2 separate regions of the Homo sapiens genome follow, and region 1 is linked to region 2. The links come from fine-mapping of genetic effects on gene expression. A gene starts in region 2. The other region holds a variant in brackets. All regions are shown on one strand. Distances are from middle to middle.

The links. PIP is the estimated chance that this variant, and not a neighbour inherited with it, causes the effect.
Region 1: its variant is fine-mapped to the expression of TTL in blood mononuclear cells (TOPMed, PIP 0.98).

The regions. Positions count from the first base shown.
Region 1 is chr2:112,534,511-112,542,843 of GRCh38, reverse strand. It overlaps TTL (tubulin tyrosine ligase), which reads right to left. Exons shown (of 7, transcript NM_153712.5): 7 at 1,105-8,333. POLR1B (RNA polymerase I subunit B) reads right to left here and starts at 379. Exons shown (of 15, transcript NM_019014.6): 1 at 173-379. The coding sequence starts at 349. LOC105373562 (a long non-coding RNA gene) reads left to right here and starts at 632. Exons shown (of 2, transcript NR_136321.1): 1 at 632-641; 2 at 766-1,188. RefSeq lists an enhancer at 347-496. The variant G/A (reference allele first, on the strand shown) is at 3,551.
Region 2 is chr2:112,478,076-112,486,408 of GRCh38, reverse strand. It overlaps TTL (tubulin tyrosine ligase), which reads right to left and starts at 4,253. Exons shown (of 7, transcript NM_153712.5): 1 at 3,908-4,253; 2 at 414-492. The coding sequence starts at 4,064. RefSeq lists silencers at 3,483-3,582, 4,143-4,532 and an enhancer at 4,853-4,922.

The sequences.
Region 1 (8,333 bases), 56 kb before region 2:
GTCTCACGAAGGCCAGTACCGCGTCCTGTTTAACATGTTGTGCTCTCCCGCTTACCCACCAAGCCTGTCAGGATCAAGGAGCACATGCATCTGGGGTCATACTGTGACCTCCCAGCCACCTCCCTGGGATTGGCCTCGCCGCGGCAAGGGCGCCGGCGGACGCCGCGCTCACCTGCACCGCGAGGCCGAGACCCTCGTGCACAGCGTAGTTGAAGGACTCCACGTGCGCCCGCGTCAGCTCCTGCAACGCTGCCTTTTGCTGTTCCCGCGGGATTCCATAAGAGGGGTCAGTCAAGTGCTTTAGGCTAGGCCCGCTGGGCAGGTTCCGCCACCGGCTGCCAGGATCCATGTGGCCACCTGCACACCGGACGCCAGTCTCTCGGTACACGCCGGACGCCAGTCTCTCGGTACACGCCGGAAGTAGTGGCCGCAGTCCCGTTTCCGCAGCCTGCTGGGAAATGTAGTTCCCTCTCGTTCCACCCGCCCTAGGCCCTGCGGTTTCGGTTTCTCGGGGTCAACGTAGAACCAAAAACGTCGAGTGAACGGGCCGATTAAGGCCGTGTCCAGCCAGAGCGTGGCGGGCCCTCCCTTTCTCCCATATTCCGCCCCACTCATCTCCCCGCTCGCGAAAGATGCCGCAGGTGGAAACCCGCTCCCCGCCCAGTTGAGCATGTGACCTCTTTGGCTCTCATTGGCTCAGTCAATTAGGATCGGAGGAGAGCGGTCTTCTCAGGCTCTCTTCTGTTTCCCTTCACCTGTTCCCAGTCCCACGCTGATGCCGACCCTGGGGAGTCATCCGGCCAAAGTCGTTGCTTCAACGAAAAAGCGGATGCCGGGCCCCGGGCTGACTCTCTACCCAACTCCTAACTCGCGAGGCTCACCCCTGGGAAGCCAAGGAGTGGTCGGGCCCCGCTAACCTCGTCGCATCTTCCGGACTGGAGGCCTGGGGGAGGCCTGGGGAAGGAGGTGGGAGAGGAGTCGGGCGGTCCCGGATGGAGGGGATGGGGCAGCGGGGCGTCCAACTGGATTTACAGCCTGAATTTCTTTTGCGTTCCTGTGAGCCCCTTACCTCCCCAGAATACTGATTAATCAGGGAATGCCTGCTGGTTTTTCAACTTTATTGTGTTTGTGTTTAACAGCTATATTGCGTTATAACTGGCATACAATAAACCACACATTTAAAGTGTACGCGTTAAGTTTTGACCTATGTATACAACCATGCAGCCATCACCACAATTAAAACAATGAATTAAACCACCACTACCCAGTATCCTCCTGCCCCTGATAGTCCCTCCTTACTGTCAACTTCCCCTTTCCTAGTTCAGCTGGTACTTTTCATTCCTATATCACTTTTTATAAAAAATTCGAGCCGGGAGTCTGTTGCACAGGCTGGTCTTGAACTTCCGGCCTCTAGTGATCCTCTCGCCTTGCCTCCCTAAATGCTGGGATTACAGGCATGAGCCACCGCGCGCGCCCGGCCAACTGAGTAGTTGTAGTTCTTTATATAGCCTATACTAGTCCTTGTCAGATCCATGATTTGCAAATATTTTTCTCCCATTCTGTGGGTTTTTACTTTCTTGCTGGTGTCCTTTGAAGCAAAACGTTTTAATTTTGAAGTGTAGTTTTTTTCTTTTGTTGCCTGTCTTTTTATATCATATCTAAGACATCATTGTGTAATCCAAGGTCATGAGGATTTAAAAAAAAATTTATGGGTACATAATTAGCATATTTATGAGGTATATGAGATGTTTTCATATAGGCATACGATGTAATCATCACAGGAGGGTAGATGGGGTTTCCATCACCTCAAGCATTCATCATTTCTGTCATGAACATTCCAATTGTACTTCCTCAGTTATTTTTGAAGGTACAACAAATTATTGCTGACTGCAGTCACCCTGTTGTGCTATCAAATACTAGATATTTTTCAATCATGGGGATTTTCACCTATATTTTCTACTAAGAGTTTTGTAGTTTCAACTCTTACATTTAAGTCTTTGACTCATTCTGAGCTAATTTTTGTATATGGTGTGAGAAAGGCATATCACTTTATTCCTTTGCATGTGGATATCCAGTTGTCCTAACACCATTTGTTAAAAAGACTATTCTTTCCCTCATCAAATTGTCTTGGCCTCCTTGTCGAAAATCAGTTCACTATAGATGCAAGGGTTTATTTTTGACTCTCAGTTCTATTCTCTTGATCTGTATGTCTATCTACATTTATCTGTATATCTGTCTACAAACTACACAGATTTGATTAATACAGCTTTGTAATAAATTTTGAAATCAGGAAGTGCACATCCTCCAACTTTGTTCTTCTTTCTCCAGATTTATTTGATCCTTTGTATTTCAATATGGATTTTAGCGTCAGCTTAGCTTGTCAATTTCTTTCTCTTTTTTTTTTTTTTTTGTTTTTTGTTTTTTTGAGACAGAGTTTTGCTCTTGTTGCTGAGGATGGAGTGCAGTGGCATGATCTTGGCTCACTGCAACCTCTACCTCCTGCCTCAGCCTCCCAAATAGCTGAGATTACAGGCATGCACCACCATGCCTGGCTAATTTTGTATTTTTAATAGAGACAGGGTTTTACCATGTTGGCCAAGCTGGTCTTGAATTCCTGACCTCAAGTAATCCATCTGCCTTGGCCGCCCAAAGTGCTGGGATTACAGGTGTGAGCCACCACACCCGGCCCAGCTTGTCAATTTCTGCAAAGAAGGCTGAGATTCTTGATCAGGATTGTGTTCAATTGGTAGATCAATTTGGGGCCTATTTTCATCCTAACAATAATTATCTCCCAATCCATAAACATGGGATGTCTTTCCATTTATTTAGGTGTTCTTTAATTTCTTTCAGAGATGTTTTGTAGTATTTGGTGTAGAAATGAACTTTTGTTAAATTTATTCCTAAGTATTTCATTCTTTTTGGTGTTGATATAAATGGAATTGTTTTCTTAACTTCAAATTGTTTGTAATATGTAGAAATACCATTGAGTTTTGTATATTGATCTTGTGTCTGGCAATCTTGCTAAACTCTTTATTAGTTCTAACAGCGTAAGTGGATTTCTTAGGACTTTTTCTATATGGTATCTTGTCGTCTGCAAAGAGAGATCATCATACTTCTCCCTTTCCAATCTGAATGCGCAGTCTTCTTTCCTTCCTTTTGTCGAATTGCTCTGTCTAGAACATTTAATACAATGTTGAAGTGACAAGAATAAATATACTTGTTTTGTGCCTGATATTGGGAAGAAAGCTCCCAACTGGAGCTTTCACATCACCATTAATATGATGTAGGCTGTGGGTTTTTCCAAAGATGCTCTTTATCATGTTGAGGAAGTAATTTATTTCTAGTTTGTTGAAAGGTTTTTTCCAAGAAAGAGTGTTGTGTATTGCCAAATGCTTTTTCAGTGTATATTGAAATGATCATGTGCTTTTTGTCCTCTTTTTTCTATTAAAGTGGTATATTATATTAAGTAAATTTTGTATGTTAAAAAAACCTTGCATTCTTTCTTTTCCCCTTCTCAACGTTTATTTTAGAATCAGGGGGGTACATGTGC[G/A]AATTTGTTACAAAGGTATATTGGGTGATGCTGAGGTCTGGGGTATGGTTGAACCTGTCACCCAGGTAGCGAGCACAGTATCCAATAGGTAGTTTTCAATCTTTGCTCCCCTCCTTCTCTCCTGGCTCTAGTAGTCCCCAGTGTCTGCTGTTCCCATCTTTTTTTTTTTTTTTTTTTTTTTTAGACAGAGTCTCTGTCACCCAGGCTGGAGTGCAGTGGCGCAATCTCGGCTCACTGCAACCTCCGCCTTCCAGGTTCAAGTGATTCCCCTGCTTCAGCCTCCTGAGTAGCTGGGATTACAGGCGCCTGCTACCACGCCCGGCTAATTTTTTGTATTTTTAGTGGAGACGGGGTTTCACCATATTAGCCAGGATGGTCTTGATCTCCGGACCTCATGATCCGCCCGCCTTGGCCTCCCAAAGTGCTGGGATGACAGGCGTGAGCCACCGCGACTGGCCTCTTCCCAACTTTATGTCCATGTGTACCCAATGTTTAGCTCCCACTTTTTAATTTTTTTGAGACAGGACTTGCTCTGTCACCTAGGACAGAGAGCAGTTGTGCGATCTCTGCTCACTGCAACCTCCTCTTCTCAGGTTCAAGCGATTCTTGTGCCTCAGCCATCAGAGTAGCTGGGATTACAGGCATGCACCACCATGCCTGGCTAATTCTTGTATTTTTTATAGAGACCAGATTTAATCATGTTGCCCAGGCTGGACTCAAACTCCTGGCCTCATTTGATCTGCCCACCTTGGCCTCCTAAAAGTGCTGAGATTATAGGAGTGAGCCACCGTGCTCAGCCTAGCTTCCACTTACAAGAGAACATGAGTTATTCCAAACTTTGTAATCTTAGGATAAGTCCCACTTAGTCATAATGTATAATCCTTTTTCTATGTTGCTGGATTTGGTTTACTAGTATTTTGTTGAAGATTTTTTCCGTTTGTATTCCCAAGAGATTATTGGTCTGCTATTTGCTTTTCTTGTGACATCTTTGTCTGGTTTTGGTATCAGGGTATTAAGAGTGACCTCATAAAGTTGAGGACACTCTTCTCAATTGAGGAGTATTTTCTTCTCTTCTATTTTTTAGGAGACTCTATGAAATATTGGTGTTAATTCCTTACCATCTGGCTTACAATCTGGTCCTGGGCTTTTCCCTGTGGGAAGTTTTAAAAGAATTATTATTAGTCCAACCTCTTTACTTGTATATTTCTTCATTAATACAGAAATTAACAAAATTTGTTACTGATTTCTGATTTTATTCCAACATGGTCAGAGAACATATGTAGTATAATTTCAATTCTTTTAAATTTACTGAGACTTGTTTTATGGCCTAGCATGTGATCTACCCCAGAGAATGTTCCATGTGCACTTGAGAAGGATGTGTATTTTGCTGCTGTTGGGTGGAGTGCCTTGTAGATATTTGTCAAGTCTAGTTGGTTTATAGTGTTTTCTATTTTCTTGTTGATCTTCTGCCTAGTTGCTCTAGCTATTATTGAAATGGAGTTTTGAGGGTTCCAACTATTGTAGTTAAATTGTCTGTTTCTTCCTTCAATTCTCTAAGTTTTTATGTCATGTATCTTTAGGCTGTATTGCTAGGTACATATGTTTATAATTGTCATATTTTCCTAATGGACTGACCCTTTTATCAATATAAAATGTCCTTGGCATACAAGTGGCCAAGAAACATATGAGACAATGTTCATCATCACTAATCAACAGAGAAATGGAAATCACAACCACAATAAGATATCATCTCACGCCAGTCAGAATAGCTATATTAAAAAGTCAAAAAATAACAGATGCTGAAGAGGCTAAGGAAAAAAAGAGAATGCTTATACACTGCTGGCAGGAATGTAAATTGGTTGAACCACTGTGGAAAGAAGTTTGGAGATTTCTCAAAGAATTTAAAACAGAGCAGCTGGGCATGGTGGCTCATGCCTGTAATCCCAGCACTTTGGGAGGCTGAGGCAGGTCGATCACCTGAGGTCAGGAGTTCAAGACCAGCCTAGCCAACATGGTGAAACCCTGTCTCTGCTAAAAATACAGAAATTAGCTGGGCATGGCGGCACACGCCTGTAGTCCCAGCTACTTGGGAGGCTGAGGCAGGAGAATCGCTTAAACCCAGGAGGCGGAGGTTGCAGTGAGCACAGATCACACCACTGCACTCCAGCCTGGGTGACAGAGAGAGACTCCACCAAACAAACAAACAAACAAACAAAAACAGAGCTACCATTCAACATAGCCTCCCATTACTGGGTATATATCCAAAAGAAAACAATTCATTCTACCAGAAAGACACATGCACCTATATGTTTATCACAGTGCTATTCACAAGAGCAAAGACATGGAATCAACCTAGGTGCCCATCAACAGTGGATTGGATAAAGAAAATATAGTACATATATACCATGGAATACTATGCAGCCATAAAAAAGAATGAAATCATGTCCTTTGCAGTAACATGGATGCTGCTGGAGGCCATTATCCTAAGTGAAATAACACAGGAACAGAAAACCAAATATTGCACAGTCTCATAAGTGGGAGCCAAACATTAGATACACATGGACACAAAAATGGCAACAAGAGACACTAAAGATGACAAGAGGGAGAAGGGAGGGAGGGGTGCAAGGATTGGAAAGCTAACCATTAGGTACTATGCTTACTACTTGGGTAATGGGATCTGTACCCCAACCTCAGGACCCATGTAACAAACCTGTGTATGTACCTCCAGAATTTAAAATAAAAGTTGGAACTATTAAAAAAAAGTCCTTCTTTGTCTATAGAAACAATTTTTTTCTTAAAGTTTATGTTGTCTAACATTAGTATAGCTACTCCACTTCTCTTTGAGTTACTGTTTGCATGGTATATCTTTTTCCATCATTTTACTTTCAACCTGTTTGTGTTTTTGAATCTAAAGTGTGTTTTGCCAGGTGCATTGGCTGATGCCTGTAATCCCAGCTGCTTAGGGGAGACTGAGGCAGGAGGATTGCCTGAGGACGGGAGTTCAAGACCAGCTTGGGAAACACAGTACGACCCTATCTCTAAAAAAAAAAAAATTTTTTTTGGAGAGATATCTGCACTCCCATGTTTACTGCAGCCTTGTTTGCAATAGCCAAGATTTGGAAGCGACCTAAGTGTCCATCAGCAGATGAATGGATAAAGAAAATATATTGCTTATACACAATGGAGTACTGTTCAGCCATAAAGAGTGAGATCCTGTCACTTCCAACAACATGGATGGAACTGAAGATCGTTATGTGAAGTGAAATTAGCCAGGTAAGTTTTGAAGTAAGCCAGGTCCTATCTCTAAAAAAATTGTTTTAAATTAGCCAAGTATGGTGGCAGGCACCTATAGTTCCAGCTACTTGGGTGGCTAAGGTGGGAAGATTACTTGAAACCAGAAGTTTGAGGCTGCAGTGAGCTATCATTACACCACTAGACTCCAACCTAGGCAACAGAGCAAGACTCTGTCTCTAAATAATAAAAATAAAAATAAAATGAAGTGTGTTTTTTGTAGATAGCATATAGTTGGATCATGATTTTTAAAAAAAATCAATTTGCCAATCTCTACCTTCTGATTGGAGTATTTAATTCATTTGCATTTAATGAAATTACTGATAAGGCAGGATTTATCTACCATTTTACTGTTGGTTTCTTTAGGCCTCTTGCCTTTTTTTTCTCCTCTATTTTTCATTACTTCCTTCTCTTTTCTTATATATTTTCTAGTGTAACATTTCTGTTTCCTTGTCATTTTTTACTATATATTTAAAATTATTTACTTAGTGGCTGGTGTGTCTTGAGGTGGACTCTTTGAGTCTTTCCTGCTTAGAATTTGTTGAGCTTCTTGGATTCACTTTAATGTTTTTCCTCAAAGTGGGAAAGGTTTTGGCCACTATTTCTTCCAGTATATGTTTTATCCCCTTCCCTCTCTCTCACTTATCTATTCTAGGACTCCTATTATGTGTATGTTGGTATGTTTGATGGTGTCTGACGGGTGTCTGAAGCACTGATCATTTTTCTTTGCTGATTTTTTTTTTCTGTTCCACAGACTGGATAATCTCAAATGACTTCTAATTTGCTGATTACTTCTTTTACCAGTTCACACATTTTTTAAACTTCTCAAGTAAATCTTTCATTTGCATTTTTGTACTTTGCAACTCTAAAATTTCTACTTGGTTCTATTTTATAAACTAACTTTCTTTCCTTTTTTCTTTTCTTTCTTCTTTCTCTTTTTTCTTTCTCAATCTTTCTCTTTTCTTCCCTCCCTCCTTTCCCTCCCTCCCTCCCTTTCTCCTTCTTTCTGCCTGCCTTTCTTTCCTTTCTCTTTCTTCCTCTCTCTTTCTCCCCTTCCTACCTTTCCTCCCTCCCTCTTTCCCTCCTTCTGCCTCTGTCCTCTCTGTTTGTGCAGACACTTAAGGTCAGACGAAAGAGCTGGGGAATTCTCAGGTCTCTTCTGGGCATGTGCACAGTCCTACACATGTGTGTGGCCTTCTGCATTCTTAGGAATAGGTTGAAGCTTTTCAAAACGTCCTATAGAAATCTCATTCCCAGTTTTTCCTTCTAAGTCTTTTGGTCAGTTTGTTTGTTCCAACTGTTACAGCCACCTTAGGAAGCTGAGATGTTCAACAATTGCTGTTGATTTTTTTTGACAAATGCACCCAGGGAAAAGGTTGTTCACACTGGGTAACCTCTTAGTCACATCAAATAAAGACAAGACCTAGGAGTAGGGACTTACATGGAACTACCAAAAAGGCCAAATGGCAATTCTCTGGTAATGAAGCTTTGG
Region 2 (8,333 bases):
AGAGGCCTGGTCCTTGCTCAAAATGTGACAACTCTGAGGTGCCATTCACTCTGGTGCTCCTTGGAGTCAGGAGAGGCAAGACTTCAGCTGAAACCACCTCTTTACTTGGTTCTCCCCCTGCCCTGCCCTGTCCTTGCTTCCCGATGGCTGTCTCTTAAGAATCCTACCCCAGGAAATCACTTACACAGGAGACCCTGAGTCAGGCTCTGCTTCTAGGAGCCTCACCTCAGAGGCAGACAGGCTTTATCAAGCACCATGTTTTGGACCGCAACCAAAGCGGCTTAGAGGAAGCTTCTGAACTGATATTTGTTGGCTTTTAAAATAAAAGTATGTTTGTCCTTTAAACAACCCCACATTTTTGCCTAAGTGCTTCATTTAGGTAAAAAATGGAAAACAGCGGTCTTAACACTTACTTCACTAAAGAAGCTTTGCGACACAGTTTGTCAGCACCCCTGTAGTAATTCACCAACTGTACCAGCCCGGGCTCGTGACCTAGGAAGGAAAGAGGAGGCTCAGAAGGGACACAGGACACAGCAAGCAGGAGAGAGGACAGCTGTGTCATGCCCAGCTTTTCTCTCTCTCATCTCAGGATTGGCTGTTAGAAAATGGAAAATGGAACAATTTTGTTTCTCTGTCCCCAGGGACCCTCTTTCTCTCAGTATTCCGCTGGCAACCTTCATTCTCCCCACAGTGGATATTATATCAACATCGTAGGTTTGCCAAAACTGCTGCTACCTTTGTCTGTTTTTTCTTGTTAGGGTAGAGGGTATTGAGGGTATTTTTTCATTTCACCTCTCCCTGACTGCACACTGCATTCCGCTCCTGGCTTAACACATATAGACTTGTCACTCTGTACAATAAGGCTACTTTAACAGTCACGCTTTCCACATCCGTAACCTGGCTTTCCATACCAAGGAAGGAAGGAGAACTAGAATGATGCTGGTCTCAAGCAAGTCTATCTCTGCAAGCTTCTAGGTGAAGGAAGGTAGTGGAGAGGCCATGTCTACAAAATCAGAAGCCCTGAGAGCTTTCTTCTGTGCCGCATTCCATGGGGAAACTCATTTTCAACAGCTCTTATTACATGTGGCTTTTTTTTATAGAATTAGAGCAGAAAGGACACAAAGAAAAACAATTTTTATTAAAAATAAAAAGTGTTTTCAGCCAGACACAGTGGCTCATGCCTGTTATCCCAGCACTCTGGGAGGCTGAGGTGGGTAAGTCACCTGAGATCAGGAGTTCAAGACCAGCTTGGCCAACATGGCAAAACCCCATCTCTACTAAAAACACAAAAACTAGCTGGGCGTGGTGGCGCACACCGGTAATTCTAGCTACTTGGGAGGCTGAGGCATGAGAATCACTTGAACCTGGGAGGCAGAGGTTGCAGTGAGCCAAGATCCCACCACTGCACTCCAGCCTGGGCGACAGAGCAAGACTTCATCTCAAAAATAAAATAAAATAAAAAATGTTTTGTTTCAAATCTTAATAAAACACACTGTATTTCCAGTAACAAAATCAAAGTAAGACCAAAGGAATTTTCAGTTGAAAATGCCAGAAGAAAGAATAATTTCTCTGAGAATGGCATACAGTCAAATCAAAAGTTTCAGGCAGGCATTAGCTGGCTCTCACTGGTCTCCCTGAGCAGACAGACCTGATTCCCACCTGAACTGCCTACATTCTTATCCACAGGGCACCTGCCTTCCTGAGCCTTTACCTAGCTCTATAAATCTTCTCCTTGGCTTTCATGTAGTACACTTTAAGCAAAAGGTAAATATCCCTTAACAGTGATGGCATATAACCAATTTTGTTGTAGGATGCTGTTTTCTTTCCCATAAAAACCAAATGTTGGCCGGGCACGGTGGTTCATGCCTGTAATCCCAGCACTTTGGGAGGACGAAGTGGGCGGATCACCTGAGGTCAGGAGTTCGAGACCAGCCTGACCAACACGGCAAAACCTTGTCTCTACCAAAAATACAAAAAATTAGCTGGGCATGGTGATGCGCGCCTGTAATCCCAGCTACTTGGGAGGCTGAGGCAGGAGAATTGCTTGAACCCAGGAGGGAGAGGTTGCAGTGAGCCAAAATTGCACCACTGCACTCCAGCCTGGGCGACAGAGTGAGACTCTGTCGCAAAACAAACAGACAAACAAAAAACAAAACTACAAAAAAAAAAAAAAACACATACAAACAAAAAGCTCAAACGTTTACTGATCATCTCCTGAATTTGTGGTATCTGTTCAGGATTCAAATTCTGGAGGCTTCTGCTTCTCACTCCTAGGCTTAAGCACCAGGGTAATGCCAGTCACTCCTACCTCTGCCTGGGCGGAGCCATGTTTGTTGTTTTTAATGTTATGATTCCACCTAAGCTTTCACAGCTAGGCACTGCCAAGAATATAGAGGGAAGTCAGGAAGTCTGGAAGGGGAAGTGGACAATGCAAGGAACAAATAATTGTTCTCAACTATAAGCAATTCTTCCTCTCCTTTCAGATCATGAATTCTCTTTGCTAGGGTCTTCCTGACACCGGTTAACCAAAGGGAGCCTCCAGGCACAGTCTCCATATTCTAAGATTTCTGGGTGTTCAAATGGGTCCTTCCATGGAGTCACCATTCTACATCATAAACTTGTATACCAATGAAAAGTTGTCCCAGGTACTATTCAAAAGAAGAAAATCCAGCAACTTTACACTGCAGCTCTTCATTCCTCCAACGATTTGAGTTTTACACAGCCCCCTCCCAAAGGCTCTGTCTATGGAAGCTCATAAATGACCAGTCAATTCCAAATGGCCCGTATTCAGTTTTTACCCATTTGAATTCTGACCACACCTATTTCTAAAAACTGTTTTCTCTCCTGGACATAGAACATTGCTCTCTCTGGGTTGCCCTCCAAGGTAGAGGTGACTCTTCCTCCGTATCGATTCTCCCCTTGTCTTTGGAATACAATTGGCCCCCACCTCTGGTGAATTCTGGCAAGGAACATGGCTCCCCGGAGAGAAGATGCAATTCCCAGATGACTGTGCAGAGAGGGAGGCCATGAGACTATGCTCAGGTCAATAGGATGTGAGTTGAACCGATCTGGGCAACTTCTGGATGACATCACTTACAAAGGAGCCGCTAGTCCCCTCCTATCTCCTGCGCTTTCCTACCCGTGGACATGTGGGTATGGTGGTGCCCAGCCAGCTTCAACCATGTGGATGAAGGTAATTCCCTCGGGGAGAGCAGGGAAGACAGGGAGGGCGAACGCAGCCTCGTGTAAGATCTTAATCCAATGCAGAACTGCGAAAACACATTATTTGGTGAAACTAAGGAAAGGTTTATAATCAGACATCCCTCCACACTTCCCTGGGCTAGGGTCTCTTCTGCAGCTCCTGCTTTTGGAATCCGGGGGTCTTTTCCAAATCCTCTGATCGCTCCTCCGCGCCTTCGGGGGGCAGAAGCCTCAGGGGTTTCAACACCTACGGCTCCCCCGCCCGCGCCCACGCCAAGCAGGGAGAAATCCTCAGTGCAGACGAGCTGCAAAAGATGACTCCAGCCGCCCGCTCTGCGGAGCCGCGCCCAGCGCGGCGGACCCGCCAAATCTGGGGGCTTCGGCCCGGGGGAGCCGCTAGACTCGCGCCTCAGGTCCCAGCCCCGGCGGCCAGCGTCTCCCGGGCTGCAGGGACCGGTCACCGTCGGGAGGTAGCTGCGGCCCCGAGTGGCCGCACCGCGACTCCGACTCTAAATCCAAGTTAGGAGACAAGAAAGCATTAAAAACGACAGGTTTCGATCTTTCCGAATCCGTTTCTGATGTGCCCGACAAGCGACAGAGGAGAAAATGTATGACCTTTAAAAACAAAAGCGCCGGTTCTAACGGGCCGCGGGAGGCGCGCAGGGCCGCTCCGAGGAGGGCAGACGGGAATCGGGGAGGGGCTCACCCAGTCTCCCGAAGGGCAGCCGATTCCTCTCTCCCAGCATCAGGTTGAATCTGGGGTTGTCTCGCCGCAGCCTCTTCCAGTGGCCGGTGGCGAGGAGCAGCCGGGAGACCTCGGCGTAGACGCTGCTGTTCTCATCGCGTACCACGAAGGTGTACATGGCGAAGCGCCGCGCGCCCGGGCCGCCGGGCAGCCGCCGCAGGGACCAGGCGGCCGAGAAGGCGGCTCAGCGCGGACCCCGCCCGGGCGCCCGCCGCGGCCCGGCCCCCGCCGCCCGCGCCGGCTACCGCGCCTCTCGGGTGCCGGCGGCGCCGCGCCCGGGCGCCCGCCGGGTGCCGGAGAGGAAAGCGCCGCTCGCACGCCCGCCCCCGCCGGCGCGGCCCCGCCTCTGTCCCGTGATTCCGCGCGGCCCGGCCCCGCCGCGCTCTGGAGGAGCCCGTGGGCGGCGGCGCCGCGCCCTTTCCGTACCCTCCCCCGGGGGCGGCGGCGGCGCAGGGTTGGAGACCCGCGGCGGTGGGCGCGGCTTTACCGCAGCGGGCGGACTGTGCGGTGGAACCGGAGCCCGGGCCTGGGGTGGTTCTTTCCGAGCCCCGGGTCGCAGCCGGGGGGCGGTGCCGGCGGAAGATCCCAGTTTGCAGGGCTCGATCTGGGTTTTTCTTCTATTGCCAAAGGACCTTTAATGGATAAAACCCAAAAGTTCTAAGGCCCGGTCCTGTGGCCTAATGAAGAAGCGCTTCCTCTTCCTCTTTGCTTAACGACTACGGAGACCCGGAGCGTCGGTTTTGTTTGTGTCGAGTGCTCCTTCCTTCGGCTGAGCCCAGGGTGGCGCACGGCCAAGGGGATGACCTTAGACTCTGCTGGTGGAAGCAGGTCCCAAACCGACCCCCTGGAGCCCTGGGCTCCGCTCTTTTCCTGCCTTTTACCGGCATTCAGCCACTTGCTTTCCCTTCTCCGGACCTCGATTTCCCCTTATGAGCGGCGGAGAGTGGCTCTTAAAAGTCCCTTCGGTTCTGATAGCCCACTCTGAAGACTGTGCTGCTGCATTTGAGATACAAAGAGAAGGCAATGATCATCAGAGCTCCCCCAAACTTCCTACAGTCCCTCATAAATTACCCACATCAGCCCTGCGCCTTGCATCTTTTACTCTCCTGTAGATAAAGAACACCCTGGGGCCTCTCCCCTTCCTGTCCCCCGATGCTCACGGTATCTACCCGAGCACATTGTAAAAGCGCCCTTCTCCTTCCCATCGTTGCCCAGATTCCACGGGGCCGCCAGGCGCTCACTCGCCTGTCTTGCGCACCGGCTCCACCTGCAGGCAACCGCTGGCTGTGGAGAGCCCGCTCAGAGCAGAAATGGGGCAGACTTAGAGGTGCTGGGTGCTTGCACTCCTTCCCAGCTGCTCTCCCTCCACGAGGGATAGAGTTGGTCGAGAATGCCCTGGCCCTCTCGCCCTCCGCACGTGCCCTGCGGGGAGGCGTGTGTCCTAGGCGTATTGCGGTGGTCCTCTGTAGGCCACGGCTGCGGTTGTCCACAGCTGCAACTTGCTCATCAGGGCATCTTCTGTTGGCTTCCTTCCTTTCCCTGACTACCGATGTTTCCTGGGATCACCTCCCAAAAAAACTACTGTACTCGTGCTCAAATTCTTGTTCCAGGGGGCACCGTTTGGGGGAACTCGAGCCAAGACGCTGTGTTTGCCGCTCTTCACGGCTGATCACCTTGAAAGTGACGTCCACTCCCACCATGCTGCATCAATTCCTCCTGCGACTCCTACTGACGACTCCTGTGCCACAGGTGGCTTCTCTCTGCCACTCCACAACCGTGGATCTCATTAGGAACACCAGTGACCTTTGAATTTCCAAATCCAGAAGCTACCTTTTTCCTTTTTCTCACTTTTTGTAGCGAGCACCATTTTTGTTTCTTTTAGCTGTAGGTTCTGTACGGTACTACTTATTCCCCACCCCACTTTTTTTTGAGACAGGGTCTCACCATATTGCCCAGGCTGGTCTCGAACTCCTCAACTCAAGCCATCCTCCCACCTCAGCCTCCCAAACTGTTGGGATTACAGGCGTGAGCCACCACACCCAGCTTATTCCCTTTTCTTTGTAAGGTAACTCATCTTTCCTCCTTGGAACGTGTGTGTGTGTGTGTGTGTGTGTGTGTGTGTGTGTCTGTTAGGGAGTCTTGCACTGTCGCCCAGGCTGGAGTGCAATGGCGTGATCTCAGCTCACGGCAACTTCCACCTCCGGGTTTCAAGAGATTCTCCTGCCTCACCCTCCTGAGTAGCTGGGACTACAGGCACAGGCCACTATGCCTGGCTACTTTTTATATTTTTGGTAGAGACAGGGTTTCACCATATTGGCCAGACTGATCTCCCAACTCCTGACCTCAAGTGATCTGCCCGCCTTGGTCTCCCAAAGTGCTGGGATTACAGGCATGAGCCGCAGCGCCTGACCCCCTTGGAACCCATTTTTTGTGGCTCTTGTGGGATTAACAGTGTCTGTTATTGATAAAGGAAATGAATATCCAGGCTTGGTCCAACAGGATTACTCTCTATCCCTTTTGCCACAGCGACTGGTAAAACGTAGGAAACTGGTCCAAATCAGACCAATCTGATGGAACACTATCTGTGTGGGACAGCTTGCCACTGTCTTGCTGTCTTATAGGGGGAGAATCTGTTCCGAAAATTCAGCTTTGCCTCCACCCTAGCATTAAGCCCCTAGCAGTAAGCATTAAATGTGGATATGTGAATATACTCTTGCCAGTAGAATGTGAGCAGGTGATATGTATCACTTCCTAGCTTAGACCTTAGAATTTGGATGTGCCCTCTTCTTCTGGAGACAGTACGTACAGTCAGCAGCAATATTGGAACAAAGAATGTAAGGAATTTGCCAAAACTGGCAGTACCCTGGATTATAAAGTAAACTCCAGCAATTTCAAAAGATTGAAATAATTCTGAACACTTTTCTGACAATAGTGGAATTAAGTTGCATGGAGATTAAGTGATATTGTACACTGCTAAATAACCCATGAATCCGTGAAGAAATCACAATATGAGAAAGTATTTTCTAACTGAATGAGAATAAAGATATGGCATAGCAAAACTGGTAGGATACAGCTAAAGCTGTTTTTAATAAAAAAATTACAGTCTAAAGTACATATGTGTTTTTTTTTGTTTTGTTTTGTTTTTGAGACGGAGTCTGGCTCTGTGGCCCAGGCTGGAGTGCAGTGGTGTGATCTCGGCTCACTGCAAGCTCTGCCTCCCGGGTTCACGCCATTCTCCTGCCTCAGCCTCCCGAGTAGCTGGGACTACAGGCGCCCGCCACTACGCCCGACTAATTTTTTGTATTCTTTTTTTTTTTTTTTTTTTTAGTAGAGACGGGGTTTCACCGTGTTAGCCACGATGGTCTCGATCTCCTGACCTCGTGATCCGCCCGCCTCGGCCTCCCAAAGTGCTGGGATTACAGGCGTGGGCCAAGTACGTATGTTTTTAAAAGAAGACTGAAAATCAATTAAGCTTCCATCTCATGAAACTAGAAAAAGAATAATAAGCAAAACCCAAAGTAAGTAAAAGGAAATAAATCCTAAGGGAAGAAATCAAGGAAGTAGAAAATAAATGTACAATAAAGAAATCAAAGGCAAAGGGGATATATTTTAAAAAATTTAAAATTGTTAAGCATTCAAGACCAACAAATGAAAGGAAGAACAATCAAAGTTAAAATGAAAAAGGTCAGATGCAAGAAGATTTAAAAATATTTTTAAACAAATTTTTTAATGAAAAAAGAAACATCACTAGAGATCCTGAAGGTATTAAAAACAATAAGATCCGGCCAGGCGCGGTGGCTCACGCCTGTCATCCCAGCACTTTGGGAGGCCGAGGCGGGTGGATCACCAGAGGTCGGGAGTTTGAGATCGGCTTGACCAACATGGAGAAACCCTGCCTCTACTAAAAATACAAAAAATCAGCTGGGCGTGGTGGCGCACGCCTGTAATCCCAGCTACTCGGGAGGCTGAGGCAGGAGACGGTCTTGAACCCGGGAGGCGGAGGTTGCCGTGAGCCAAGATCGCGCCACTGCACTCCAGCCTGAGCAACAAGAGCGAAACTCCGTCTCAAAAAAAGAAAGAAAGAAAGAAGATCCTATGATCAATTTTTGCAAATGAATTTGACGTGTGGACAAAATAGACTACTTCCTTGAAAAATCCAGTTTACCAAAAATGACACAGAAATACAAAATCTGAATAATTTCACACCTATTAAAGAGATTGATTCTATTCGCAGATAACATATATGTAGAAAATTCTACCAAAAAAACCCTTAAGGACTACCCACACATACATACCCACGAAATGTTAGAATTAATAAACAAATTAGAATTAATAGAATTAATAAACAAATTCAGCAAACTTTTGGAACAGCCCAAAATAATCCAAG